4 linked regions of the Homo sapiens genome follow. The protein of the gene in region 1 binds, or shares a complex with, the protein of each later gene. Each region holds a gene or a part of one and is shown on either strand. Other genes may lie near its edges.

Evidence for each region.
Region 2: TADA2A (region 1) and MBIP share a complex: the UniProt entries of both Homo sapiens proteins name them as parts of the ADA2A-containing complex.
Region 3: TADA2A (region 1) and DR1 share a complex: the UniProt entries of both Homo sapiens proteins name them as parts of the ADA2A-containing complex.
Region 4: TADA2A (region 1) and KAT14 share a complex: the UniProt entries of both Homo sapiens proteins name them as parts of the ADA2A-containing complex.

Annotation. Positions count from the first base shown.
Region 1 is NC_000017.11:37,472,873-37,479,897, reverse strand, and holds the end of TADA2A (transcriptional adapter 2-alpha), read right to left. Parts: intron 5,343-7,025; coding exon 5,269-5,342; intron 3,102-5,268; coding exon 2,916-3,101; 3' UTR 173-2,915; downstream 1-172. UniProt on the Homo sapiens protein: Component of the ATAC complex, a complex with histone acetyltransferase activity on histones H3 and H4. Required for the function of some acidic activation domains, which activate transcription from a distant site. Binds double-stranded DNA.
Region 2 is NC_000014.9:36,317,631-36,324,580, forward strand, and holds the start of MBIP (MAP3K12-binding inhibitory protein 1), read right to left. Parts: upstream 3,008-6,950; 5' UTR 2,959-3,007; coding exon 2,830-2,958; intron 1-2,829. UniProt on the Homo sapiens protein: Inhibits the MAP3K12 activity to induce the activation of the JNK/SAPK pathway. Component of the ATAC complex, a complex with histone acetyltransferase activity on histones H3 and H4.
Region 3 is NC_000001.11:93,341,317-93,348,924, forward strand, and holds the start of DR1 (protein Dr1), read left to right. Parts: upstream 1-4,590; 5' UTR 4,591-5,329; coding exon 5,330-5,549; intron 5,550-7,608. UniProt on the Homo sapiens protein: The association of the DR1/DRAP1 heterodimer with TBP results in a functional repression of both activated and basal transcription of class II genes.
Region 4 is NC_000020.11:18,133,462-18,140,865, forward strand, and holds the start of KAT14 (cysteine-rich protein 2-binding protein), read left to right. Parts: upstream 1-4,401; 5' UTR 4,402-4,494; coding exon of another isoform or gene 4,495-4,590; intron 4,591-4,609; exon of another isoform or gene 4,610-5,093; intron 5,094-7,404. Other genes in the region: protein PET117 homolog, mitochondrial precursor, read left to right, coding at 4,495-4,590. UniProt on the Homo sapiens protein: Component of the ATAC complex, a complex with histone acetyltransferase activity on histones H3 and H4. May function as a scaffold for the ATAC complex to promote ATAC complex stability. Has also weak histone acetyltransferase activity toward histone H4.

The sequences.
Region 1 (7,025 bases):
AATGACTGGTTGCTTAACTGAGTTCAGATTTTTAAAAGCGGGGGAAGTGAAGACGGTTAACAATAAAAGGAAAGAAACTGGGACCCAGGAAAAGATAAACTGAATATTTAGTATTAATTGGTATCGCAAGAGACAGAGTCTTGGTCTTTGAGCACAGAGAAGAGTCATTACATGGAAAGAGATTTGTTCTTTATTTCCCACCACTTAGAGAGAAAAATATGCATAAAACTCCAGCAGAAACTTTTAACGTTAAATTGCAATAAAAATTTCAGTAAACAGGTTTTATTCATGTCATTAAGTTTCAGGGTAAACTCTCTCTTCTGAGACAATCTGGAGAGACCTCTATCAGTGTAGTTGGTTTATGGCCAACCCTGTCTAGAAGCAAAGAGGAAGGATGCAATGCTACGTATCTTTGCAAAGTTCGGTATACCAAAGAAATAATAATCCTACTTTCAAAAATCCAGTCATTTAAAACTTCAGTCTTATTTTTCTATTACTATTTTCAACCATGCCATTTTCCTCATGAAATCTGATTTGCCATCAGCTTTTCAGAGTTCAACTGTTTCCAAGGTTTCTGTCAGACTGTCCTACCATCCTCCCACTCCTAACTACCCAGCTGCCCCTTGTGTTCTAGCCAAATAAATCTCTTGGCACCATTGTCCTTACACCCACTGCTGCCTCCACATCATTCTCCACCCCCTGTGTGTGGAATTGTCTCCCACTTCCATCTGCCATTTTTCTCTCTCTTCTCTATCATATAATTGCCCCAAAAGCCCACCTCTCCCAGGAAGCCTTCCTTAATCAAGGTTAAGGACTCTTCAGACTACAACAGACGTCACCTAACACTGATGGCTAATGCATCCCAACTTTTCAGAACAGGAGTTTCCTTTCAGGGATAAGAGGCAATCACTTCACAACCAACTAGGGGTGATGGTAGTGGTAAAATGTTTTCTACGAGATATGATTTTACAAGGAAAACAGGTCATTTCCACGTCATTCTTTTTAAAAAATCGAAGTCCTCTATTTGAATTCCCTCAGGTCCTTAGAGTGTCTTTTTCATTTCTTATCCCTTAGATGAATCCCTTCCCAGCTGCATGCATATTTACAACAGTCAAAAGTTTGAGCAGATGCTTCCAACAAAGCACACAGTATTTTAATTAGATATTTGAATGTAGAAGGAATTAAACAGTCAACTATTCGATGTGATTTGTGTCGATTCTGACGAAGTTATTTCTATATACAACTTTGTTTCTAACAGAAACAAGATAACCATAAGTTTGGCTTCTTATTCTGCAGAAACGTTTGAGGACCAAGTTTTACATGTGGTGGGGCTACTTACCCTCATATCTAGTGAGTCCCATATATAAAGCTGCTTTACTTCTGTTTTAAAAGCAGCTTTTATTGCAGGCTAGCCTTTCACCATTGAGAAATAGGGTTCAAGTCACAATCCAAGCAAAGCTGAGGTTTGTTGCATCATCTCCATCCTCAGGGGCTTGGTATCCTGGGAAACCCAGGGCAAAAACAGGGTGAGTTCAGGACACATGTGACAGCAGACAGTGCAGCGTGATGGGGCAGGCATCCAACACCTTAAGTGTGTTTCAGTTACCAGAATATTTGACACACCCACAAATTAAATAGCAAAACATTTTAATTAATTCTAAAAATAACAGAGACATGTTATATCCGGTGCCACCTCCTCAAAAGACTACTGCAGATTAGACAGGCAGACTGCAAAGTACAAAGCCAGACATTAAAGGTTTTTTTTTGTTTTTTTTTTTTTGAGACAGAGTCTCACTTTGTTGCCCAGGCTGGAGCACAGTGGCGTGATCTCAGCTCGCTGCAACCTCTGCCTCCTGTGTTCAAGCAATTCTCCTGCCTCAGCCTCCTGAGTAGCTGGGATTACAGGCGTGTGCCACCACACTCAGCTAATTTTTGTATTTTTAGTAGAGACTGTTTCACCATGTTGGTCAGGCTGGTCTTGAACTCCTGACTTCGTGATCCGCCCACCTTAGCCTCCCAAAGTGCTGGGATTACAGGTGAGCCACCTTGCCCGGCCGAAGTTAAAGATGCAGTTTGGGATAAGACCATCATAAGGATATTTTCTTCCCCTTTACTCATAAAAGTTGTCAGCTTAGGCCGGGCGCGATGGCTCACGCCTGTAATCCTAGTACTTTGGGAGGCTGAGGCGGGCAGATCACCTGAGGTCAGGAGTTTGTGACCAGCCTGGCCAACATGACAAAACCCTGTCTCTACTAAAAATACAAAATTAGCCAGGTGTGGTGGTGGACACCTGTAGTCCCAGCTATTCGGGAGGCTGAGGCAGGAGAATCACTTGAACCTGGGAGGCAGAGGTTGTAGTGAGCTGAGATCTTGCCATCACACTCCAGCCTGGAGGACAAGAGCAAACTCTGTCTCAAAAAAAAAAAAAAAAAGTTGTCAGCTTAAAAAATCCTTCAACGAGAGCTTTCTTATGCTCTAAAACCTTTCTCTTTATTTTAAATCTGTCTGCAGTGTTTGAAGGCAAGACAGATAATCAGCAAACTTACCTCGCAATATAAGGATCTGAGCTGGACTCCTGGGATTACAGACTGTGGTTTAGTTCCATTTCTACCAGCACTGTGATGTGAGGTACTATGGTTCTTTTAGTTACAAGAGGTGTTAGGAATGAATGCCCACTCACATTTAATAATAGCTTATGTAGCACACAACTCTGCAGCATAATACCAACAACAGGAGTGTTTTAAAGCAGGATGGAGAAGAAAGTAGACAATACAACTTAAGGTTTCCTTTGTCCTTTCCCCTGTTTTCACCATGAGAATTCAGCTGAAAAACAACTCTCCAGAATGCCCACCCATATTGTCCTTTGACCCACCACATTCCAAACTTCTGACTTCTGATCCCAAGCTCTTGGAGCCTTAGCCTTTAGTGATGTATCCTTCTCTGATGAGGAAATCATAGATTTTCCGGGTTTTGTTCACATCTATCTTGATGAGTGCTCTTGCCTGCGCCAGTCTTAAGCCTCCTTGCTTGTTACATTCGTTCAATAGAGCAGATTTGTATTCTAAATAGGCTCCAGGGACCAACCTCACCATCTGACAGAGCTGCAAGACACGGCAAATTTAATAAACATTAACATCTGTCATTTTTGTAATTTAATCCAGCAGGTATAGCAAAAAATTTTTTAAAGTGACATCAACCTCCAACTATTTATAGGAGCTGATGGGTGGCTGGACTACATTCCATTTAGTCTCTTCCTCTCTGGAGAGAACACTCCCTAAGGACACACACCCAGGAAGAGAAAGCCAGGGTGTGATACTAGAAGAGCCTTTAGCACATGCCAGCTGGCTCAGGGGCCTGGGTTTGTTAGGGATTTACAACTATGTGCTCCTGAGGAGCAGCCTGGCTCTTTCAGGAGTCAAACACTAAATGCCCAGGTACAGTCCCAGCACCAATGGTCAGGGAAGAGCCATGGGGCACAGTGGGGGCAGAATGCACAGACACTTGGATTCTCAAGGCTGCATCACATTGTTTTTAGTGTCAGCATAAAGCAGTAGTCCCTGCTTTGGGGATTACATTTCCTACTTCAAAGGGAAAGGAGATAAAGAGACCTTGCTAAGAGGAGGTAACTTTAACTGCTAAAAATCTAGAAAATTGCCACATTATCCAGCAATGAGGAGTCTGAGGTCACCATTATGTGGGTAAGGATAAAAAAAGCTTGAAATTCCAGGCCATTCAATATTTGAATCAGGCTGACCTATGACCTCCTTCAGCAATACATAGATACTACATACATTTCCTTCCACTCCCAAACTAATCCTTACTGTTCCTGGTGGATAAAATAAGACTAACACTATCCCCTACACTATGACCCTTCCTTATTATCTGAACTGAACTAATGATATATGGTGGGAGATGGGGAACTGACCTTGGGAATTATAAAAGGAGCATATGAGGAGCAAAAGAGGAACTCCTCCAAAAGAGGAACAGACTTCAGAGATGTGACAAAGTTTTCTGAAAACTCCTGATGATGACTCTTATGAGGCTGGCTTTAAATTTTAGAAACAGATAAAATCAATATGAAGACATGTCTGATGATTGCAACTGGAAAAAGTAGGTCACATAATTTTTTAATCAGGCCGGTGCAGTGGCTCACATCTCTAATCCCAGCACTTTTGGAGCTGGTGTGAGTGGATCACCTGAAGTCAGGAGTTCGAGACCAGCCTGGCTAACAAGGTGAAACCCCGTCTCTACTAAAAATACAAAAATTAGCCGGGTGTGGTGGTATGCGCCTGTAGTCCCAGCTACTCAGGGGCAGGAGAATCGTTTGAACCCGGGAGGCAGAGGTTGCAGTGAGCCGAGATCACACCACTGCACTCCAGCCTGGGTAACAGAGCGAGACTTTCAAATAAAAAATAAAAAATAGGCCGGGTGAGGTGGCTCACGCCTGTAATCCCAACACTTTGGGAGGCCAAGGTGGATGGATCATGAGGTCAGGAGTTCAAGATCAGCCTGGCCAACATGGTGAAACCCCATCTCTACTAAAAACTACAAAAATTAGCCAGGCATGGTGGCAAGCGCCTATAGTCCAGTCCCAGCTACTCGGGGAGCTGAGGCAGAAGAATCGCTTGAACCTGGGAGGTGGAGGCTGCAGTGAGCTGTGATCGCATCACTGCACTCCAGCCTGGGTGACAGGGCAAGTCTCCGTCTCAAAAAATAAATAAATAAAAAAAAATAAAAATAAAAAATAATTTTTAAAATCAAAATTAACATGACTATATATGATGTAGAAATCTTTTCCTTAGGTTTATAAACATGCTCTGGAGACAATTTACAAAAATGTTTTAAATAATGATTATGTTGTTGGAATAAGTATAGAACTTTTCAAGGCAGCCATTCTAATAGGAAATATCTATTTTCATGTAGAAGTTACTTTAGGTTTACAAAAAATTAATTTTATTTACATAAAGCACTCAGTAGAGTAGCACATGGTAAGTGCTCAATAGATGATAGTTGCTATTATTATGTCATCTACATACCACATGTGCTTTCCCCAAAAGAGGAATGGTGGTAGGGTGACAAGGTAAGCAATTCTCTGAAATCTGCCACAAACGGCTCTTTAGCTCTTGGACTTCTAGGATTCACCAGAGCTGTGCATATATGTTAGATGAATGAAACAAAAGGGGTTTGACCCTGTAATGGATTTTTAATGACAACTCAATGAATAATCAGCCCCTATTCTCTTTCTCCCAGCCCCCTCCCTTTTGTTACCTCCTTTTCTTTTTCATTCAGCTTCTCTGTGCCAGGGAGGCCAGTGAGGTTCAAGGGTGGTGCACTCCGTCTACCTATAGACAGAGAAAGGAAACAGCATAGATTTAATAGGAGTGACAATTTCTCAGGTGTAAAGTATTAAAAAGTTCAGTGCAGCCAGGCCAGTTAGGTATAGGATCACTATATCCAGCTTAGGAAATCCTGTCCCATTCCCTCAGGCCTGTTTAGCTAACAACATGGGCACCCGAACATTCACTTGAAAATGAATTACATATTCAGGGCACATGAATTACCCATAATCTGCTAAAATACACATACAGTCACACATACCTTAGCATCAAATGTAACTACTCACCACAGTAGTTATCTCTTATTTATTATTATTATTTTTGAGACAGGGTCTCACTCTGTTGCTCAGGCTGGAGTGCAGTGTTGCGATCATAGCTCACTATAGCCTCAATCTCCCTGGCTCAAGTGATCCTCCTGCCTCAGCCTCCCAACTACCTGGGAAGACAGGCATATGCCACCATGCCCGACTATCACCTATTTCTTCCTAACCATGTAGGAGACTCTAAAATCTGATGCCCAGATGTCATCCAGTTAAGAAACATCACACAATGCCTGCTTTGACAGCTGACGAATGGAAATAATAACTGCAGAACAGACATTCCCTAATCCTTGCCACTCGGCCAGCAGTACAAGGCAAACATGGTAATTAACCAAGTACTGTGTGCCTTCAGATCAAAGAAAGACTGTTAGGCCAGCAAAAGGCCCTTCTTTTTTATTATGTGAGGGAATATCTGTTCCTTCCAAAGTAGCCCTGTTTACCTGCAAGATCCACAAACAGGAACAATGAGCCATTATATGGCAAAGCAGGGGCTGAGGTCAACTCACACACCTGAGAAAGAAACCCAAGTAGGAGGTCACTGGCCAGGAGGGGAAGCTTGATGAGCAAAACTTTTTTGGTTTTGTTTTGAATGTGTATTAGGGATTGGTATTCAGCTGGGAATGGATAGACTGAGTTAAGCAAAGAAAATGTCGAAGTTTTATAGAGGTTGCTTTTCAAGTGGGGCAGAGAAAGGGGAGGGACTGTTACAAGCTCCACTGGTGGAAAACAGGCTTCTCTGTTACATCAACAAAAGGCATAAGGGATTATTCCAAATCCTCAAAAAGGGAGATAAAACCATTTGGTTCCTCACAAAAGTCACCAGAGGCTAGGCTACAATCAAAGATGCCAGGCTTCCAATACATAGTTGCCTTAAGAACTCAGAACATAAAGGAGAGCAAGAGATCTCCTCAGCCTAAATATAAGGGGTGAGAAAGGCTAACACAGGCTAGGAACAAACAATGAACAAGAGGCCGGGTGCAGAGGCTCACACCTGTAATCTGAGCACTTTGGGAGGCTGAAGCAGGAGGATCACTTGAGCCCAGGAGTTCAAGACCAACCTGGGTGATATAGTAAGACCTTGTTTCTACCAAAAAAAAAAAAAAAAAAAAAAAAATTTCTCCAGGTTTGGTGGCATTCACCTGTAGTCCCAGCCACTCAGGAGCTGAACTGGGAGGATCACTTAGGCCTGGGAGTTTGAGGCTACAGTGAGCCATGATCACATACTGCACTCCAGCCTGGATAGTAGAGGGAGACCCTGTCTCACAAAAAAAGAAAAAAGAAACAATGAACAAGTCAGTGCAGATAGTACAGAGAACAAAAATATATGATCATGTTAGCCAGTTCCTTCATTTAATTTAATTAATTAATT
Region 2 (6,950 bases), on another chromosome or scaffold:
TCAAAATGAGTGAAAATTTTACAATGAGAGCGCCCATCTGCAGTCTTTTGAATGAATAAAAGTGAACCATCAAAAACTTTTCTAGGGACATGTGTTTACAGCATAGTATAAGACTATACTTCATAGTAGAATCAAGTTAACATAATTTATTCAAAATGAGTCATCTTTTCTACAAAATAAAGGTGTTACGTGAGTTCAAATACAGATTTTATGAGTCACAATTATAATAAAAAAGATGAATCACTGTACAAAGATCAAAAAGATATAAGGTTACCAATAAAAAGATAATATATTGAATAAATACTATGTGACAGAAATTTACTGCCCTTTGAAGATGAGAATGGAAGCATTTAAAAGTCCATATTAGACAAGTATAAAGAGATATGAAATTTCATGTAGGCTGCACTGGCAAAGATTAGAATATATTAAGATTGTACATTAAAGTTAATGCATTAATTTATATTACTTTAATTCCTATAAAGATTTTGTTAGACAACAACCTGTATTATGTATGGAAGTAACCCATTAATGTACTTTCATAGTCTTCAAGGAGATCTATAGTTGATTATAGAAAACTTAAGAATACAGCTTGGGGATAAAGCAGGCAAATCCTCAACCAAAGCAAAGTATCACATTTTCTAGAGAAAATAACTTATAGAAAAATAAGTCTTAATGTTTGGTTCATATTCTCATTTCAATTCAGCAGAATTACATAAGCTTCAAGTGCAATTAAGAATAATTAGTCTTTTAAGAAAACCACATAATGTCACAAATTAATTTTAAAACTGTCCTAATACATCTAACTATTCATTCAACAAATTCATTATTAGTAATATGAACTCTATGCATTTTGCCCTACAGAACTTGGAAGAGTAAACCACTCACTCGAAAATCTCTATTAGTCTGCTATTAATATAGACTATTTAAATATATATTTTCAGTAAAAACTTTACTAAATTAATACAAAAATCCAAGCTAAAAATAAATAATTGTTTAGCTTGGTAAGATGGACCATCCAGAGGCAAGCAAAAAGGTTAAAATTAGTAAATTTTGTGATCTTAAGTAAAAAATTATTTTTAACATTCAGTTTTATGTTTCCTACTGAGGAGATCTAATAATACAACGATACTTAGGGATGACACAGGATGAAGTTAGGCATGTTACAACATACATTCTAAATATCCTTTAAAGTGGTTGCAAAAGAAAATACTGATTTCTCTGGGGGCAATTTTATAAGTATGGAACTCTAATTTTCACTCTTAACACTTCTCAAAATATAGAGTATTATGAAAACAGTTTGTATTTAATTGATGAAACAATCATATTTTTGACACTTGTATAGGAGGTCCCTTCACTGTGTCATGGTAAAGTAACCAAATATTTACTGTGAACATTTTTGACAGGTGACATAAGTAAATTGTAATCACTTCTTTACTTGTACAGTACTTGAATGTTTAAAATTTTCTAATGAGTTTGAAAAATTCAGTATGCAAAATATTTCAAAAGAAATGTTTAAATCATTGCTCAGTATTTTTTAAAAATATTCCATCTTCTGTTAACAGGTGAGAATAAACTTTTTTCATCTTGACATTATAAAATAAATAAACTTAAGTTCCAACGTCGCCATAAAAAGTTCTCTAACTTTTAAACCATTTAAACGTCTTGGGTCTTAAGAATGGAATGTTAATAACAAAACACCCCAAGTCTTTAAAAAATGTTTTTGGTAAGTACTTGGCAAACAACTGAATTTAAAAGTTATATCTTTAAGCAGACTCCATTAATAACTGCGTCATTTCATAAAACCGTTTAACTTACAGTAATGTTCTTTGTAAGACACAACATACTACGATTTTTAAAAATAGTAACTTCTTAAAAGACTGATTCTCCATCTACTCAAGGCTTTAAAAATAATTTTCACAAATCAGACAAATGTTCTATTTTCATAGGAATTTACCATTATCTTTGACACAAATGCCTGCTTTGTCCACTTGCGCTAGTACCAGCCCCAAAACAAACTTTTACGGCTAGAAAATGGTCTATGTAAGATAGAAAATATTTCCTTTTAAAAGGCAGGTAAACAAGCATACTTTTAAATTGTTTCTCATTTAAAACTTGAATTTTACACCATGAAACGAAACAGTGACTTGATCGAAGAAGCCCATTTCAATTTAAAACCAATTTTACTATGACATTTCTGCAAAAGCGATTTATCAGCCAGTTAAACTAGTTAATAGTTAAATAACGACAGTTCTAACGCCAACAGCATTTTACGCTAGAAGTATTTTAAATGAATTCCTTTTACTTTTCTCCCCATTTGAAAGGATTATAGATGCGCAAAACAGCCCGAAGGAAAAAAGAAATAAACAAAACCAAGTAACTCATAAGAACAAATTACTCCCTCCCCCACCAAAAAAAGCTAATAAGCGCGCGCTTTTCTATAAATCTCAGGCCTACTGACCAACCAATTCCCATAAAGAGTAAGTTGGAGGAAAAAGGACCCTGAACGCTAAGCGCCTCCTAAACTCGCAGTGAAGCTTTTCCACATTCATTCTCTCCAAGCCTGCCTCTCTCGGAGCCGGGTTTTCACTTAGGCCAACCTCACCCACTCTTGGGGAGGACAGCTGCAAGGTAAACGACTCTGCAACCGGTACCGCCGTCCTCCTCACTCCGACCGAGGAGGCTGGGCCCGGGCTCCTTCCACACCTCGGCTTCGGGACCGCATCCCACACCTCTGCAGGCCTAGCTGCCCCCGGCCTCTGCTAGAGAAAAAGAATGGCGAGGAGGGACCGGATGGTTTCCATATTCCCAGTCCCTCAGGCCACCTCTCACCTGTCCAACCAGGGTGTGTAGGGAGCGAAAGATTTCGTAGAGCACCTCTCGGGAGAGGTTGGGTCTGCATCTTCGCTCCAGGTTCCTGTCACCGCTGCTCGGGCGATTAAGCTCCGTGGCAGCAGCCATGATATCTTCTCAGGCCGCCCCACCACCACCACCACCAAGATTTGCTCACAACCCCGCCCCCTCCCTTCCAGCTTTAGTCGCTTGGCGATGACGTAAGACACGGAGTCTGGTTTAGATCGGGCTTTGAGGCCCCACCCTCTCTATGTGAATGACAAGCACGTTACACCAATCAGTTGCAGCTGTGACATTGCGCCGAGGCTCTGAAGTGGGTAATTGCAGACCACAGCTAGGCTGGAATGCTGTGTTTGGGGTGGTCATTAGAGTCGTGGTCTCTTTAGCGTTATGAAGCCTACCTTGACTCCTAGGTGTTCATTGTGAATCTTGGTAAGAGGAGACATAGTTAAATTTTGTAGTTTGAGTCCAAAAAGTAAAAGTTGACATTTTAACATGGCGGTGTGGAGTGGGTCTGGAGGAAGCTTGCTGGTCAGGGATGGAGTGGTGCCCACACGTGTTTCTAAACATTGGAAAACTCACACGGAATTATCATGATTGGATAGAACATTTTCATCTCTTCAAGTTTGTTGTTGTTGTTTTGGAGACAGAGTCTCACTCTGTCGCCCAGACTGGAGTGCAGTGGCACTACCTCGGCTCACTGCAACCTCCGCCTCCCAGGTTCAAGCGGTTCTCCTGCCTCAGCCTCCTGAGTAACTGGGACTACAGTTGATATTCTCTGTTTTAACTGTAGAGACGCTTAACCCTAAAATTGTTTCAAAGAAATGAAACACTGTCAATATAATTCCAACAGGAATTTAACCTGGATAAATAATATCATGCAACCACAATCTTTGAAATTAGGACATAAAACCGAATTCAAATTTTACAAAGTATTATTTATCATAATAGCTTTATTATAACGATGTTTGTGGGGTTTTGTAATCTTTTAGTCAGACTCCGATATTTTTAAAAAGTGTTATCCAATTAAAGTATTACAATAATTTTTAGTGTTAAGCTTTATTCAAAAACACTTTAAGAAATCAACATCAGCTTAGAGATAAGGAAGGTGGGATTTAAAACTCGTAATTCTGTTAATAGTCTAATGCATTTACAGTAGAGAAAGCAAAGGTGGAAACTTGCACAATGTGTATTCTTTAGTTTTAGGGTAGACTAAATTAAAGGGAAGGACTAATGCATCAAGGAACTAAGATAAGGACGATGGGGATAAAAACTCCTTTGACCTGTCCCTAGGGAGTCTCTTAATTAGGCTTTCATTTCCAAAGACAAATGGGATCACCAGGCTTGACAGAATCTTGGGAAATCTTTTCTGTTCCCTTGTTGGCAGCAAGATATACAACTGACATTCCAGCCTATTTCTACAGGCAGAAAAATACTTCACAATGTCCAGTCTCAAATTGAGCAACCTTCTTATTCAAGCATGGTAATGGGGTAACTGTAAGTTTTTGTTTTGTACCAAATTAGCAATCAGTTTCAGATCATTTGTTTTCATTGAGGTGTTTCATATTTTTTCAAATATGGAGAACACTGATATGCAACACATTTGGGAATATGCTTTGTATATTTAAAAAATGTTGTCTTTAACAAGGTGCTGCTATTCCTTTCTTTGCCATCATTGATTTTGAATTTTCAAGTTTTACTTGTTCTTTTGAGCCTCTAATACAGAATTAACTGATGGCCATTTGATCTGTGTATTGCTTCTCCATGTAATTCTGTGATTTGATATCCAGACCTGCACTTGTATCTTAGTATTCTTTACTTAGGTACAGGTTGAGCATTCCTAATCTGAAAATTCAAAATCCAAAATGATCCAAAATTTGAAACTTTTTGAGTGCCAGTACCACAAGTGGAAAATTTCACACCTGATCCGACATAACAGGTCACAGTTAAAATGTAGTCAAAACTTTGTTTCATGCACAGAATTATTTAAAACATTATATAAAATTACCTTCAAGTTATGTGTATAAAGTATACATGAAACATAAATGAATTTTGTGTTTAGATTTGGGTCCCATCCCCAAGATAGCTTATTATATATATGCAAATATTCCAAAATCTAAAAAAAATCCGAAATCTGAGACACTTCTGGTCCCAAGTAGTTCAGATAAGGGATACTCAACCAGTAGTACTTAAAATTTGTTAACTCTTTTGTGCATTCTTTCTTCTTTCTAAGGACCTTTCTTACTCTTCTTGATGCCTATTACCTTCATTTTGGAAATTTTTCTCATTTTCTTATTTTATAATAGAAAATTCTATTTTAAATAGAAGAGTTTGTAGCCTGAAAAGATTTGGATTCCTTTGGGCCAACTCAAAATAGAAATTTGTAGATATTGTATGTGTGTATGTATGTATAACAAAAGTATAATATGCGCTATGAAATTTAGAAAGGGAATAAAGGGAATAATTTGCTCTTTATGGAAAACTAATTACAGTTTATAAAGTGGGTTGCTGAAAAATCTGCTGCCTGGCAGAAATGATTCAAAGTGTTGGTGTTCGCGTTAGCAACAGAGTTAGAAATACTGTCCAGCAGGCTTATGCCAAGAATCAATTGGGAGGATAGAGACTATAAATGAAATCTAGGCTATTTACCTTATCAACAAAAATGTCTTTTATGGTGAGCTTTAATGGCATAACTCTATTGAATAACCCAGTTCCCAGCAAAATACCTGAGGTATTAGAAGGGCTCAACTGATGTTTGTTGCATATATGATAATACAGATTTTATTTCAATGCAGAAAAAGTAAAATAAATGGTATTTGTCGTCCCTGTCTCCCCATCACCTGCTGCATAAGTCCAAGTTCTTTAGAATGACATGAAGGCTCTTATGATGTGGCCTTTGCCTAAATTTCCAGCCTCATTTTCTGCCACAAACCATCTGGTGCTTAGTGCTTCTGAAACTGCTTTTATGTCTTCAACACTTTACTATTTCTTGCCTCCATGCTTTGATTTTTACCCAGTGCCTGTTGTCTGCTTGAGAAACTCCTTTTCCATTTTCAAACTCCAGTTAGAAAATCTTTGGGGAATCCCCCCTCATAAAGAGCTTATTTTCTCCTCTGCTAAACTACTCCTACAACTTGTATATACTTCTATTATTGTAGTTATCACAGTGATACTTGAATTTATTTGACTATATCTGTCTCCTTATTGAACTATAAGCATTTATATGTTGGTGTACATAAGGCTTAGCATAGTTTCTGGCACAGAGTTAATTGCTCAGTATATGCCTGTTGAGCTGAATTTATTTGCCTTCATAAGTGAACAGATTTATAAAATGGAAAAAAGTAAACAAGTGCCTATTGTTGAAGGAAAATTGTAACATATAGACTGCTATAAACAATTTATTTTAAATAACGAAACAAGTCTGTTTATTCTCTTTTGTGGCAGCAAATTCAAAGTGTTCTAAGTTTTCTTAAGGGAGTAAATATAGCTAGCCTTCATAACCATTCTCAATAATTTTACACATACAAATTAATTGTACCTACTATATACCAGGCACTCTAATTGACATTGAGCTACAAAGATGAATCAGACAAGGACTGTTCCTCAAAGAGCTCCCGTTCTAGTGGGATAGGTAGATATATAAACAAACAACTTCATATAATGTGACAATGGCCATATTAGAGGTATGTATAAAGTAATGCAGCCAATTAGTTCCTTTGGGGAGGGGGTTGGGTCCAGAATCAGGAAAAGCTATAAACACTTAAAGTAAAATCTGAATTGATATTGATAAAAATATGAATTTGATATCAAAATATGAATTGATAAATAAGAATTCTCAAGGAATTTATAGAAAACATGAACAGCAACTTGAACATGCTTAATATGTTTAGGGAGGATACATTAAATAGAGAAGTATGGCTAAGCAAGCATTTCCTAAAGTGTATTTTATGGAATGCTAGTCTATAATGTGCTAATTTTAGCAAAACAGTTCATGATCAAGTAAATTGGGATAATAATTGGCAAATTGTATTGCCATTTCATGCAATGGCTCACAACATTACTTCCTATTAGCAAGGAGTTTAGCAGTGCAGTCAAGCCCA
Region 3 (7,608 bases), on another chromosome or scaffold:
TTGAACATTTTTCAAAAAATTCTACCATCCTTAAAGGTCTTTATCCAGTTTCAAAGTTAACAAATATTTATTGAGTGCCAAGGACTGTCCTGGCTCTGGGGATGCAGAAATAAACCAGACCCTCACTGGCTCTGGGTACTTACAGTCTAGCTTAAACAAACCCTGCTATAGAGGGACTTGTTACATAGCCCTACTATATGATCCCACATCTCCGCTGTCCAACTCTCACTGGATACATCCATTTGGATAGCTATTTCTTTCTCTCCATCCAAATCTACCTCTTCTTACCATCATTGTCCCCACCTCCATTATTATTTAGGCACGGTCCTCGTATCTCACGGTAGATGCAGGCAGAAGCTAAATCCTGTAAATTCTGTTTCCAAATGCCTCTAATTTGTTTCTTTTATCTTATTATCACCAAACTTTCTTTGTTCAGGTCTACATCATTACTATTTTTACAATAGCTTAATAATTAATGTTCTTGTCTCTGTCCATTCCAGACCATCTCACATGCGAACTCAAACTAATCTTTTTAAACATTATTGTTTATGTCATCCCCCTTCTCAAAAATGTTCACTAACTCTTTCCACTGCTTACAAAAGGATCTCCAGACTTCTTAAAATGATGTGGAAAGACTTGAGACTTTGTAGTCAGAAAGCTTGGGTTGCATTTCCAATCTGCCACTTATTCACTCTGTGACCTTGAATAATCTCACTGGGCTTCAATTTTCCCATCCATCAATTGGGATTAATGACTAGTTATAAAGACCAAATACATGTGAAAGTGCTTTATATTTTTAAAGTCCTATAATGAATATAACCTTTTTTCCTTTTTTTTTTTAATTTAGAGATAGTTACCAAATTACAAATAGCTTCAGCTTTGGAGTTAAGTAACAACCTGGTTTGAAATTTCAGCTCCATTACTTATTATCTGTGAGACTTTGAACAAATTAGTAAAACTCTCTGAGACTGTTTTCCCCCCATGTCAAAACACCTATTTTGCATGGCTATATGGAAATTAAATGAAATAGCAAATATGAAAAACTTTTGGCCCAGTGTATAATTCATATCAGGCACTGATCTGTTTTCTTTTTGCCCTAACCTACTTTTCCTGCATCATATACCACTACACCTCTTTACAAACCTTATTAATAGAGCCACTCTAGACTACTTTATTTCCCCAAGCCATACAATGTACTTTTGTGTTTTTTCTTCAGCTACATGCTCTTTCCTTCCCTATCAAAATTGTACTCAATCTTCAAGGTGCAGTTAAAATATCCAGTCCTCCATAAAACCCTTTGTACTCCACAACTAGTGTGTTAATCACTTCTTCCCATGCATTCTTAGCCTGTATATTTTATCACAATATTTATTTGAATCTGGTTTATATTCTGCTTCTCCCACCAGATTATAGGGTCTTCAAGAACAAGGTGGGAGTTATATTCATCTTTATTTCTCCCACATCATAGTCAGGACACTAGACAGTTATTGAATGAATGTAGAAATCAGATGCTGTCTTCTCTTTCCACTTTCTATAGGACACCACTTCTACAAATGCCTGCCCAAACATGTGCAAAAGCAAGCACATCTTCTCTAAACAGCTCCCTTTCAACTCCACTGTTTTTGACAGTGACACTCCCCTAACCCTACTCTGAGGCTAAACTTTTTTTTTCCTTTTCTTGAGGCAGGGTCTCACTCTGTCACCTAGGCTGGAGTGTAGTAGTGTCATGGCTCACTGCAGCCTCAGCCTCCTGGGCTCAAGTGATCCTGCCACCTCAGCCTCCCAAGTAGGTAGGATCACAGGTGTGCACTACCACACCTAGACAACATGAAAAAAAAAAGTTTCATATATATGCATTCTCTCTGAAACTCTTAAAGCTTAATAAGGAGATGTTCTCTTTGTCCTTAAAAGCCTATTTATAATACAGATACATGTAGTGTACTATAAATAACTATTTAAATATGGGCTACAGATTAGCATATTTTATGACATATCACACTGGTATTTATATCCAATTAAATTTCTCTCAGCCACGTATGTAATAAACTAGTTACATGGTTCATTACTAGTTGAAGACTGACCAAGCCTGATAAAGATGATAAAAGACACTAACATTATATAACACTTCATACTATAAAAAGTACTTTCACACAACTCTCATTTGATTTTGAATCCTGTGTGTTACATAATATTTCTATATCTGAACTGAAGAAAATGAGGCTTGGAGAGTGACTTGTCTAAGTAAAAAAAAAAGCTGGGACTGGAACCTACAACTCTTACTACACATTCAATTCTGTTTATGCTACCACAGAAGCCTGTAGCAATAAACTATTACTGAAATAATGTGTGCTCTACTCGTCTATTTAGCATAAGTCTATAAACATAAATGTTACATGAAAAAGCAAAGTTATAGTTTTTTCAGGAGAGACAAGATAAGGGTCAGTGACACTGTGACAACTTGGGACATTTTTTGCCAGCCAGCTTTTTCAGACGGATAAACTTGTTAAGGTCAAGATAAATTTAGGCACCATAATAAATCTTTAAATCAACAGTAAACTGACAAAAAAAAACAAACCCACCACTTCATAAAGTATTTTTTTTTTTTTGAGATAGAGTCGTGCTCTGTCTCCCAGGCTGGAGTGTAGTGGTACGATCTTGGCTCACTACAAGTTTTGCCTCCAGAGTTCAAGCGATTCTCCTGTCTCAGCCTCCCAAGTAACTGGGATTACAGGTGCCCACCACCACACCCAGCTAATTTTTGTATTTTTAGAAGAGGTGAGGTTTCACCATGTTGGCCAGGCTGGTCTCGAACTCCTGAGCTTAAGTGATCCGCCCCCCTTGGCCTCTCAAAAGTGCTGGTATTACAAGCATGAGCCACCATGCCCAGCCTGAAGAAAATTTAATTAAAATACTGTTTTTAATCAAAGAAATTTTGTTTTGACTAAATTTAGTAGCACTGAAAAACAAGTGTCTACACTTCAGAAATTAAAGAACCAGTAAGTTGTCCTGCAGAAAATGCTAAATGAAAAAATAGCATAATAAACTGTAATGTCTTCTTGAGAGCAGCATATAGGGCTCAGACAGAACGTTTTAAGAAAACACTGTCAACAAGCCAGTTGCCATCATATGTATCAAGAGTAATGAATCTGATGAACCAAAGTGACAAAATGGATTTCAACAGTGTCTTGTTTAGTTTTTAGAAATTCCAACATCCCACTATTTATAGTATAGCCTCTTCTTCCACATGACAGTATGACAGACTCAGTTTTTTTACTTTTTTTTTTTTTTTATCTTTTTTGAGACAAAGAATCTTGTTCTGTCACCCAGGCTGGAAGTGCAGTGGCACAACCGCAACTCACTGCAGCCTTGACCCCCTGGCTCAATCGATCCTCCCACCTCGCCCTCCAGAGTAGCCGGGACTACGGGTGCCTGCCACCAAGCCTGGTGAAAAAAAAACCCGTGTTTCATATTGTCATATAGAAGAGGCTATACTATAAACAGTGGGATGTTGGAATATATATTTATATATATAAATATATATTATATATATATATATATATATTTTTTTTTTTTGTAGGGACGGGTCTCACTATGTTGCCCAGGCGGGTCTTGAACTCCTGGGCTCATGTGATCCCCCTGCCTCAGCCTCCCAAAGTGTTGGGTTTACAGGTATGATGAGCCACAACGCCTGGCTGACACACTTTTTTTTTTTTTAAATGCAATTTCTGTTTAGACCTTGACACCTGTTGATATTACTAGTCACTATGGAAAGAAGTAAAAACAGTTGCTTAAGATGCTCTAACACTTTTTTCCCCTGTAGAAGCCAACATGGAATACAACATGAAAACTGTCTAAATGGGAACCTTCTAATATAGCTCATTGTATGCCATGCATTTCCACTCCATTTCCACTATGTTGGAACTGACTTCTGCTTTCCTACTTAGCCATTAGGCGACTTAGTTGCCTCTAGGCAAGTAACTTCTCTGAAATGTTTCATTTTTCATGAAGTTTAAAAAAAAAAAGGTGAAGGACTTTAGAGAGCTTTGAACCGAATAAGGTCTATCAGACATCTTGAAAAGCTTTTTCTCCAGACGACGCAGAAACAGGCACACGGGGTTCTGCTTTCCCCACCTCCCACCCCCAAGCCCAGGTCCCATTCTTCTCACTTTCAATCCTCATTTGGGCTCCTAAAGGAATAGCAAAGAGAGTTATTTTATCAATACCAGCGCTCCTCTGTCCCCAAATCCAGCTAGGGAAGGTTTCGGAGGCCTCAGCTACTTGAGAGAGGGTAGAGACGATCCTTCCTCGCCTATCTACCCAGCCACCCACCCCTTCCCAGATGTAGCGTCCGGGCCCCAGACCAAGCGCGTGCTTGGAGCTCTCCGGTACAGTGAGGCGCGCGCTTGCCTGGCTAGGGTCCCTGTGAAGGAATGGGATCCCGAGGTGCTTGCCAGGACCGTAGCAGGCGGAAGCTGCTGGCAGCGCGAACGGGCGGCTCCCGCCGGCGTGGGTGGGGGAAGGGCGGCAGCCACACCCGGAAGTCGGTCCGGGAGGGAGGGGGAAATCTGAGGGAACGAGGCTTCCGGTGGCGCAAAGGGTGTCGGGAGCGGCTTCCTGCAAACCTTCCCTGGCATCTGGAGGGACCACCGTTGCCGCGTCTTCGGCTTCCACGATCTGCGTTCGGGCTACGCGGCCACGGCGGCAGCCACTGCGACTCCCACTGTGCCTGGCTCTGTCCATATTAGTTCCCAGGCGGCCGTCGCCGTTCCAGCAGCGGCAGCGGCAGCGGCAGCGGCGGACATGTTGTGAGGCGGCGGCGCGGGTGTCTGAAGGATGGTTTGGCCGAGGCGGCGGCAACGGCTGCTGGCGGCGGCGGCAGCGGCAGCGGGGCCTCGGGCTCTATAGAGCCGAGCCCGCTGGGTACCCGCCCGGTACCGCGGCGAGGCCAGTGCCCCTGGATCTTGCCTCTGCTCCGACGCCGTTGGGGACCAGTTAGGCGACAGCGCCCGCCCCTCTGAGGAGACACGAAGGTGGTTCCCCAGCCGCTCAAATTTCCGGACCACCGCGCTTTCCCCTCCTCAGCCTGGGCTGTGCTCTCTCTAGAATCCTCGGGCCCCCACTTTCTTCCCAAACTCATCCTAAATCTCTCACACACGCGAGTGTTCCCAGCCCTCAAGCCAGCTGCTCCTCCGTTCATTTTCTGCACCCTCTTCGCAAAGCACCCCCCGGGATCACTCTCCGAGGGCGACTTTTTGAGAAATCTCGGTGGAGTAGTGGACCAGAGCTGGGGAGTTTTTAAAAGCCGGGGCGCGAGAAACAGGAAGGTACTATGGCTTCCTCGTCTGGCAACGATGATGATCTCACTATCCCCAGAGCTGCTATCAATAAAATGATCAAAGAGACTCTTCCTAATGTCCGGGTGGCCAACGATGCTCGAGAGCTGGTGGTGAACTGCTGCACTGAATTCATTCACCTTATATCTTCTGAAGCCAATGAGATTTGTAACAAATCGGAAAAGAAGACCATCTCACCAGAGCATGTCATACAAGGTAAGTCGTGTGTGAGAGCTGGTTTGAATGAGGTTCTAGGGTAGCAGTCTGCTAATCGCGTGACCCTTTCGTGTCAAAGCCTCCATTCCTCTTCCCTGGTAAGTAACTTAATGAAAAAGCCAGACTGGCATGTAGGCAGCCGGTGCTTTAAAAACAATCCCTTTGTAGCATTTTTGCAGTACTTTTCATCCAGCGAATACATGTAAGGAGTGCAAACATTTAGGTCAGCGTCCCCAAAACGTAAAGAATAAGAGTGATCTCACTTTACAGCCAGGTAAGCCGAAGCAACAAGAATTACTTGCCTGAAGTTGAACTTAGATAATAATTAAGGAACGCAGAAATTCTCCTTTGGAAAGTTAAAATTCAGACGGAGGAACTTCAACGTGGGTGGAGACAGAGCACCCCCTTCCCCACCTGACCTTTCACCAATGTAGAGGAAAAGATTTATTTTCTGAACACATGAGTTAAAAAATTCTTAACATACAATGTGTTCAACGTTGTCAAGTTTATCGTTGTTAAATAAAAGGTGTATGTTTTCTGCTCTAAAAATGGTTTGATGGTACGTTCATGAATGAGTTACCAAATAACTCCTGTTCCATTCTGTAAGAATAGGGTGAACTTTAAATTTTCGTTTTTTTCTTTTCGTTTGCTTTTATGTCGTTTGCTTTGTTCTATTCTGTGGAGATAAGTTTTGAAATCTTTGATTGAAAGTTTATGCAAGTTTTTTTTTTAACGGAAAATTTCCCCGTCCTTTCCTGCTGTCATTCCTATTTGAATGTATACACTTAGGCTTTTATGGAACAGCACTTCTGAAAACTTCAACAGTTTCTTTTATCCTGGAAAGGATTTGGTCCCGTAATAGGGATTTGGGGGACTGTATTCTGGTGGTTTCAGAGAGGAGAAACATATTTACTATTCATAATGTTTCGGGAACGTACCTTTTGCGATATTTTTACATGTACTCTTGTGAAAGAGTTGTACTCAATTTGAGGTGAGAACTTGCCTTTTGTAATAATCTAATTAAAGTTATTGATTGCTTGTGAAATCAGGGAAAAATGATTAATTTTAATCATTTTGATAGGCAGGTGGTTGTCTATCACTTAATTTTTATAATTTAACTTTTTAAAATGTGACTTTCCTGTTGTACTGAAGTAGAGAACACATCTGCTTATATTGACCATATCCAATATTTTACTCTCAGTATTGACAAAAGGATTAAATGATTCATTTTTAATCCTTTATGACGTCTTGAAAGTAGTTTTAAAATATATCCTGCCATTTCAGTACACAAGCAGAAAAATCCCTAGGAAAAAGCATATTTGATTCTTAAAACTAGTACTAGTTTTTTTTTTTTCTACTTGTTTGGTGTGCTGAATACTCTAGCAAGTAAAATGAAAGCCAAGTTGTCTATTTTTTCCCTTGTGTATTTATTTTTACATTGTATGTGTGATTGCTGTCATAAGTCTTTCACAAGATTATCCAGCACAGATAGCTATAATTTCTTTTTACAACTCTTAAAAAGGAAAAAGAACCTTTATCAACATTGCCTTTCTAATGAAAATTGCAAAAGATTTCAGCAGGGTCTGCCTAAACATTTGTTTACACTACAGAAGTGGGGATCGTTCCAAAAACCTAATAACACATTACAGTCTGTCTTCTTGGGGAGAGTTGATTCTTTTCTAGGATATATTTAGATTTCTGATTGACATGATGGAATAGAAGTGCAGCTGTAGCAAGCAGTATGCTAAATAATTCAACTTTGGAATATGCTAAATTCAGTTTAATGTGTGAGTCAGAAAGCTATAGTGAAAAAGCATTTCCATTGTGTAATGAAGATGATTTGTTTTTAAAAATCATGTATTGACGTGTTACCTTAAATTTAAAAATTTACCTTTTTTTCTTGTATTATGCTATTCTTAAAAGTGGTTAAGAATCTACATTTTCGCCCAAGAATTCTCCCTAGTTGGGGTTGTAGACTTTATACATTTATAATCTCATATTGCTTAATTATTCCAAAGAAGTTTTGTTTTGAGAGATTACATTTTTAAAGAAATTCTTA
Region 4 (7,404 bases), on another chromosome or scaffold:
AGAAGAGACAAACCTGTGCAGAATTTCAGATTACTTATATAGATACTGCATTGAATTCATGGTGATTAATTCCAGTACCAGAAGAAAAACTGGCTGTTTTGGAGTTCCTGAGAAAATATCTATTTTCTTCAACATGTCACCTTCCTAAAATGTTTTCAAGGGTAGTTTTAACTGTTTTTGACTTTTTCCTTATGTGCTGACTTCAGAGCCTCAGCCTGAAGAAGGTGGGATTTCGTGGCCTTGTCTGCCTATAGAGCCCACTACAGGGCCATACACAAGGCAAGCCTTCTTGCTTGCATTTAAAATAGTCATAATGGTGCTTTATGCGGTGCCATGTGGTGTGATGTTTCTGTAATCATTTAGTGCTGAGACTGATAAATTTATCAGTCACTGGTGCCAGTTCAGCTGACACCCTCCACCTTCTTCCCAAACAAACCTCCTCCTTCCCACCTCCTCCTTCTCTCTCAGCCCCAATGATGACAAGCTTCTGATCATTGCCTGAAGCCTCTGCCTTGACCTATTGCATTCATGCCCACCATCAAGCCCAGTTTAAACCCGTGCCTCCTACTGATACCTCCTGCTAGGGTACTAGTGATTTACTATTCTTTAAGACAGAAGTGACCCGAAACCCAGCTCTCCCAGGATAGCTGCCAGGACCTGGCCATGATTCAAGCCCAAATAACATAAGCCAAATTACACACTCAGTGAGGAAGGCATTTTTTTCAAGTCCCCACCCTTGTGTGAGTGAAGGTGGAACAAAGATTGTGTGACCATGTTGTTCAAACACAGGAAAATGACTGCATTCCCTCCCCTTAGTTTTCATTTGTTGATTCTTCTCCAAGCCCTGACTTCCAACTGTACTTCTTTTTTGATGCTGCCTCTTGCTTAGAGGATTCTGAAGGGAAGGACAGGGTAGTATGCTGTTCTAAAGAGTATGGGACTTTATCCTGTAGGCATGGGGAGCCACTGAGCGGTTTTTAAGGTGGTCAGCTTCCTATTTTTGTCTTTGGAGGTAAGTTCACTCTGAAGGCCAGCCAATGGCAGGGCAAGGCACCCACTGTCCTCTCCAGGAAAGCAGTGGCCATTCTGGGCACACCTAAGTCAATCCAAAGCTGAGAGGGGCAGGAACTGATGTGATCTTAGGATGCCGAGACACTAGAATATAGCCAGATACACAAGGTTCAGATGTTCTGGCCTTACAAGCAAATTGTATTAAATCAGCCATGCTTCCTAAGCTTCGTCCCACCTTGGTAAACATAAAAAATAAGGATATCTGTACAACTCACTGGGATCAACTTGCGTGAGCTTGGATAATTCTAAAAGGAGCTTCATGGATAATAATTATTTACATTTCCTTTATATGGTACTCTTATAAAAAAGAAAAAGAAAAACAAAAAAATAAATGACATATAATTATGAGAAGAAAAATAAAAGCAAATCTTGGGGTAGATTTAAATATCAACTTTGGGTAAAATTTCCTGATAACATTCTTCTTGGAGTCTCTTTTAAATATCAAGTTTTGTGTTAAAAATAGTTCCTGATCATTGCTCCTGCACATAGTTCTTGATCAAGATTTTTTTTTTTTTTTTTTTTTTTTGAGATGGAGTCTCACTCTGTCACCCAGGCTGGAGTGCAGTGGTTTGATCTCGGCTCACTGCAACCTCCACCTCCCGGGCTCAAGTGATTCTCTTGCCTCAGTCTCCCAAGTAGCTGGGATTACAGGCACCCACCACCACACCTGGCTAATTTTTGTATTTTTAGTAGAGACGGGGTTTCATCATGTTGGCCAGGCTGGTCTCGAATCCCTGACCTCAAGTGATCCACCCTCCTTGGCCTCCCAAAGTGCTAGGATTAAAGGTGTGAGCCACCACGCCTGGCTGATCAAAATCTTTTTAAATGATCATCTCTTTAATTTTTGATAGTTACCATGGAGAAAAAACTTTTTTTTTTTTTTTTTTGAGTTGAAGTCTCACTCTGTCACCGAGGCTGGAGTGCAGTGGCTCACTGCAACCTCTGCCTCTCGGGTTCAAGCAATTCTCCTGCCTCAGCCTCCCAAGTAGCTGGGATTACAGGCATGCGCTGCCACATTTGGCGAATTTTTGTATTTTCAGTAGAGACGGGGTTTCACCATATTGGCCAGGCTGTTCTCGAACTCCTGACCTCAAGTGATCCACCTGCCTTGGCCTCCCAAAGTGCCTGGAATACAGGCATGAACCACCGTTCCCAGCCAAAAAGCTATTTGATACAAGAAGTGATGATAAAATGTAAAGCCATCGGCTATGAACCAATGGGAAAAAAAAGAAAAAAACACACAATAAAAAATCAAAAGGAAATAAAGACAATAAAAGAAACAAAAAAGAGCCATTTTTTTTCTGTTCGTATAGTTATGTAAGATTTTGTATAGAAGTGTATCATGCATGTATGTGTGACCACACAGCCTTGGTGTGCCACTGGACCAATTTTCACAAACACCCAGTACCAGCACCCAGTACTAGAGTTCTAGATCAGCCTAGCCAACATGGTGAAACCCCATCTCTACTAAAAATACAAAAATTAGTGCAGCCTGGTGGCTCAGGCCTGTAACCCCAACTACTCCAGAGGCTGAGATACAAGAATCGCTTGAATCTGGGAGGCAAAGGTTGCAGTGAGATCACCCCACAGCACTCCAGCCTGGGCGACGGAGTGAGACCCTGTCTCAATTAAAAAGAAGAAAAGAAAAGAAAAAGAAAAAAATAGTTGCTTCTCAGTTTGATGATATGCAGTCACTCTCACAAATCAGTAATTTATGCGACAATAATCACGGAAAATATACTGCTTAGGCTTATAAATATTTAAACAGATAAACATACTTTTTTTTTTTTGCAAGACCTCCCTCAGTCCCCCAACCCACTTTTTTATTTGACACAGTTAATAATAAATGATTTCTTAAAAGTAGAATACTTTTTTTTTTGCTTCTAGTATCCTGAAAATAAAGAAAAGAGTACATTTCAAGAAAACAAGTTGAAAAATTAGTCACAATAAAATGAAAGGCGATTGATCTAATTCCCTGATGTACACTCTAAGGACATACAGCTCTGTTGAAGGCTCACTGATTTACAGGGGAAAATATCTAGGATATACCACGAATAAAAAGAAGTCTAATATAATTTTTAAAGAGAAATATGCAAATACACCCTGAACTGAATTTCTTCTCAAAGTTCATTACAGCAAGAACTCCATTTTCCAATTCAGTGGTACATTCTCTCTAGGCTGCAAAAAATGCTGTGGACAAAATGACATTTGGAAAAGGTATCTTTAAAGATACCTTTAAGAGCAATAGTCCCCTTATGCCATTTACGCTCACATAAGAGACTGGAATAGCAAAGCACTATGAACAGTAATGAATGTTGTAAAACTCCCTGGTGAGGCTTAATCAATACTGCCTATAGCCGTGTCCACCGGAAGAAGCTCGTTCTCTGTGAATTCTAGTGGGAAAGAATGATTGAATGATGAACACGTTTTCACTGGTTGCTCTATCAGATACTTAAAAGTTTCTGGGAGGCCTTGCCTTTTTTACCCGAGGAAGAAGTGAAAATGCGTCTTGCACAATTGCTTAACTATTCCCAACGCAAGACTTCTTTATATCATTTATTTCCCTTGTATTACTGGCGCGGAAACTTGGGTGTAAAAGTGATCACAAAGATTACATGGGGCCAGGCGCGGTGGCTCACGCCTGTAATCCTCTCGGGAGGCTGAGGCAGGAGAATCGCTTGAATCCGGTAAGGTTGCAGTGAGCCGAGATCGCGCCACTGCACTCCAGCCTGGGCGATAGACAGAGACTCTGTATCAAAATTATAATAATAATAATAATAATAATCCGAGCCTGACCAGTCGCCCCACAGCGTCAAGGTGAAACCAGGTGACCGCGACTACAGCGTTTAATAATGGGTCCTCAGGCAAAAACTCCACGGATGGGAACCCCGCGCCTCTGAAGCTGCCTAACGAGGCGGTCTCCTGGTGGCGCCTGCCCCGCCAAAGGAGCAATGAGGGGGCTGCGTTTAGGCGAAGCCGGTATTGGGCGAAGCTTCTGGATCAGTCAGGGGCTCAGAAGGGACGTCTGTGGGAGAGGGGTCAGCACGGTATCCAGACCCCGCCCGGGGTGAGGTTGGTACTGAACTGACTGAGGGGCATGGAACCCCCACCCTCCACCCTGGTAAGGTGCCGGGGCCAGTTTGGGCCGGGACTCCTAGAATTTGAATCGGGGGTGGTCTAACGCTGTCGCCTGCGGGGTGTGCAGGAGGCCCCTAGTGAAGCCAAGAGTTCGTAGAGCCTGGGCGCCGCTCTATGCTCGGCTCTCGATTGCTCACGCCTGGCAGCGGCGAGCGGCGCACGCGACGGCTGGGGCTCTGCGCTCGAGGGGTCGAGCCTGGGCAGTACAGGCGGCGGTGCGCACTCTGCGGCGGCCTCTGCGCCTCGGGCGGGCGGGAGAGAGAGGCCGCGGCCGCCAGCGTGGGGATGTCTAGGAGCTCGAAGGTGGTGCTGGGCCTCTCGGTGCTGCTGACGGCGGCCACAGTGGCCGGCGTACATGTGAAGCAGCAGTGGGACCAGCAGGTCGGTGTCACGTGACCGTCTCTTCCGGGCCCGCGCGCGCGGCGTCGACCTGGGGCCTCTCGTGGTCTCTGCCCGCTCGGTTCCTCAGCTCCTCTTCGTGTCTTTCCCCCGCGGTGGCGCGGCCCTGCACCCCACGCGTTTGCGGCTGCGGCCGGCGGCCGCTCTGCTGGGCTCCGGGCGCTGCAGCTCCCGGCGGGCGTGTGCAGCCCGCAGATTCAGGACGACCCGGCTGCCCGGCTTAGCGCCTTTGGAGCTCCGCGCTGAAGGGGCCTTGCTCCGCACAGGCACGGCACGCAAGCTTTTGGGGTGCCCAGTGGCTCTGTTTTCAAGTCACAGCCGGCCCGCAGGGTGCGGACCTTTCCACATCTCACTTGGGCCGCTAGAAAATAGAAGGTGGGGAAGGAGTTTCTTGGGGTGCATTCTGCAAGCTACCAGCCTCCCTCCTGGCCCAAGGTTGGGGTTAAAGCCTAATGTGTTTTACGTGCTATTGATTTTATCCCATGGTAAGGGAGCCCCCCTTCCCCGTACTCACTCTCCATGCCTTTGACCAAGATAATTTGGTGAGATGTTTGCACTTCTCGTTTAAATGAACAGTTTGCTATGGAAACTAGAATCTGGGAACGATAGAGATAACAGTCTCCAGATTTTTTTTTTTGGTACTTTTATTTCAGGAAATATCCGTGACCTGCTGATCAGCAGTGACTATTCTGTCCTCTCAGTTCATATTTTCTTTCTTATTCAAGTTGACAGACCTTTAATGGGTGATTACTGTGTGGAAGCTACCTCACTAAGCACCTTGGGAATACAAAGATAAGGAAACTCCACTCTTCCAGAGTCTATCAGTGATTCACGACCTTGCTGAGAACAGGGTCATTGGTGAATTTTCAGAAAACAACTTGGCAGTGATTGGGGTTGAACCTAGTTCACCAAGGGTGAAAATAATGGACTGGATGAATCAAGAGTAAACAGTCTTTTCTTGATTTGCCTACCCAGACCTTTGGACTGTGCTATGTGCTTGATATACAGAGATGAAGTGGATGAGGTCTTTGTTCTTGGTGTTCACAGACTGTGGAAATTAGAAGAGAGGAAGCATGTGATGGTACAAGAATTTTGACGAGGGGTTGAGATGACTTAACAATGAAAGGGCACAGGAGAGATCAGAGATTTGGGATTAAAATGTGCTCCTAAGGGGCTGGCTTTTGGAATAGAGGCAGAAGACTTCCGCCTCTTACAAGGAAAAGTAAAAGATGTTGATCCTGGGAAAACTTGAGATGGAGTAAAATTTAGTATGACAGATGATCTGACGTCAGTGAAGTGATGTTTGAAGGGTTTGGGTAGGGATGGATTAGAGCTTGGCTTTGGACCCTAACTGAACATCAAATGTTCCCGGAAAGTTTTTACAATGTGACTAAGGCTTGGTCCCCACCCCAGACCATTTAAACCAGAATCTCCTGGGGATGGGGACCTGGTTCAACAATGTTTTAAAAGTAACCCAGAGAATTTTAACACAGGACTAAGCACCATTGTGTTACAGAGTGGAAAAGTGGTTATTTGGAAGTTAGAGCTGAAGAACCAAAATAACGTGTGTGTGTGTGTGTGTGTGTGTGTGTGTGTGTGTGTGTGTTTATTTTTTTTCCTTTTATGTCCGGTTCTTCATTAGGGGCTTACATTGTATTAATAGCAGTGGGAAAGACTAGGACAAATGATTAGCACAGTGGATGTGTCGGAAGGTTCAAGGAAGCAAGAAATTAAATAATGAATATTGATTCCTGACCGTCTACCACATACCAGGCAGTGTATTAAGCACTTTATGTATATCATCTGTAATCCTCACAGTAACCTAGCAAAAATTAAGCAGTGCTACATGAGGAGCCAGAGTTCTAGGTGTTAGGGTTGGAAGAATAAAGAGGTCTTTAGTGATTAGTAAGGAAAGTTGTTAGAAAGGTAGTTCAGTGAGGGTCACAGGAAGGATGTGTGAGGCAATCAGCATAGACCTTGAAACCTAGAGGAAGATAGCAAATGATGGGATGGAGAGCCAGATCATAAGCACACGTGACATCTCTGAGAAGGAAGGGTAGGATCTGGGAGGCAGGTGTGGAAGGAATGATTCTGGTGAATGGTGTGGGCTTGGGAGGGTGGGTATCGGTGTGTCATGGTGTAAGAAGCACAGGACAGGAAGACCTGCAGTTGGGGGAGTGGAATAAGCACCTCCGTTTTTGTCTCAGTGGTGATCTTGCCAAGGGTGCATGGTTCAAGACAGTTGTGTTTCAGTTGAGTTATATCAATCCCGGGACTCCTTCAAATCCCTCATAATGAAGCTGTAGGCCTGGAGGAGGTCCAGCAAGTAGGTATTATATTAGGTGAGTTTTTAAAAATAGGTAAAATAATTTGGAAAAAACCCCACAAACATACGCAGGCCCTGGGCCCCACTCCCATTAATTCTACTCTATATAGCCACTATTAAAAACCATTTATTGGCCAGGCACGGTAGCTCATGCCTGTAATCCCAGCACTTTGGGAGGCTGAGGCAGGCAGATCATTTGAGGTCAGGAGTTCGAGACCAGCCTGGCCAACGTGGTGAAACCCCGTCTCTACTAAAAATACAAAAAAATTAGCCAGGCCTGGTGGCGCACGCCTGTAATCTCAGCTACTGGGGAGGCTGAGGCACAAGAATCGCTTTAACTCAGAAGGTGGAGATTGCAGTGAGCTAAGATCGTGCCATGGAGCCAAGATCTCCAGCCTGGGTGACAGAACGAGACTCCTTCTCAAAAAAAAAAAAAAAAAACCAATAAAACAAAACAAAAAAAACCCTAT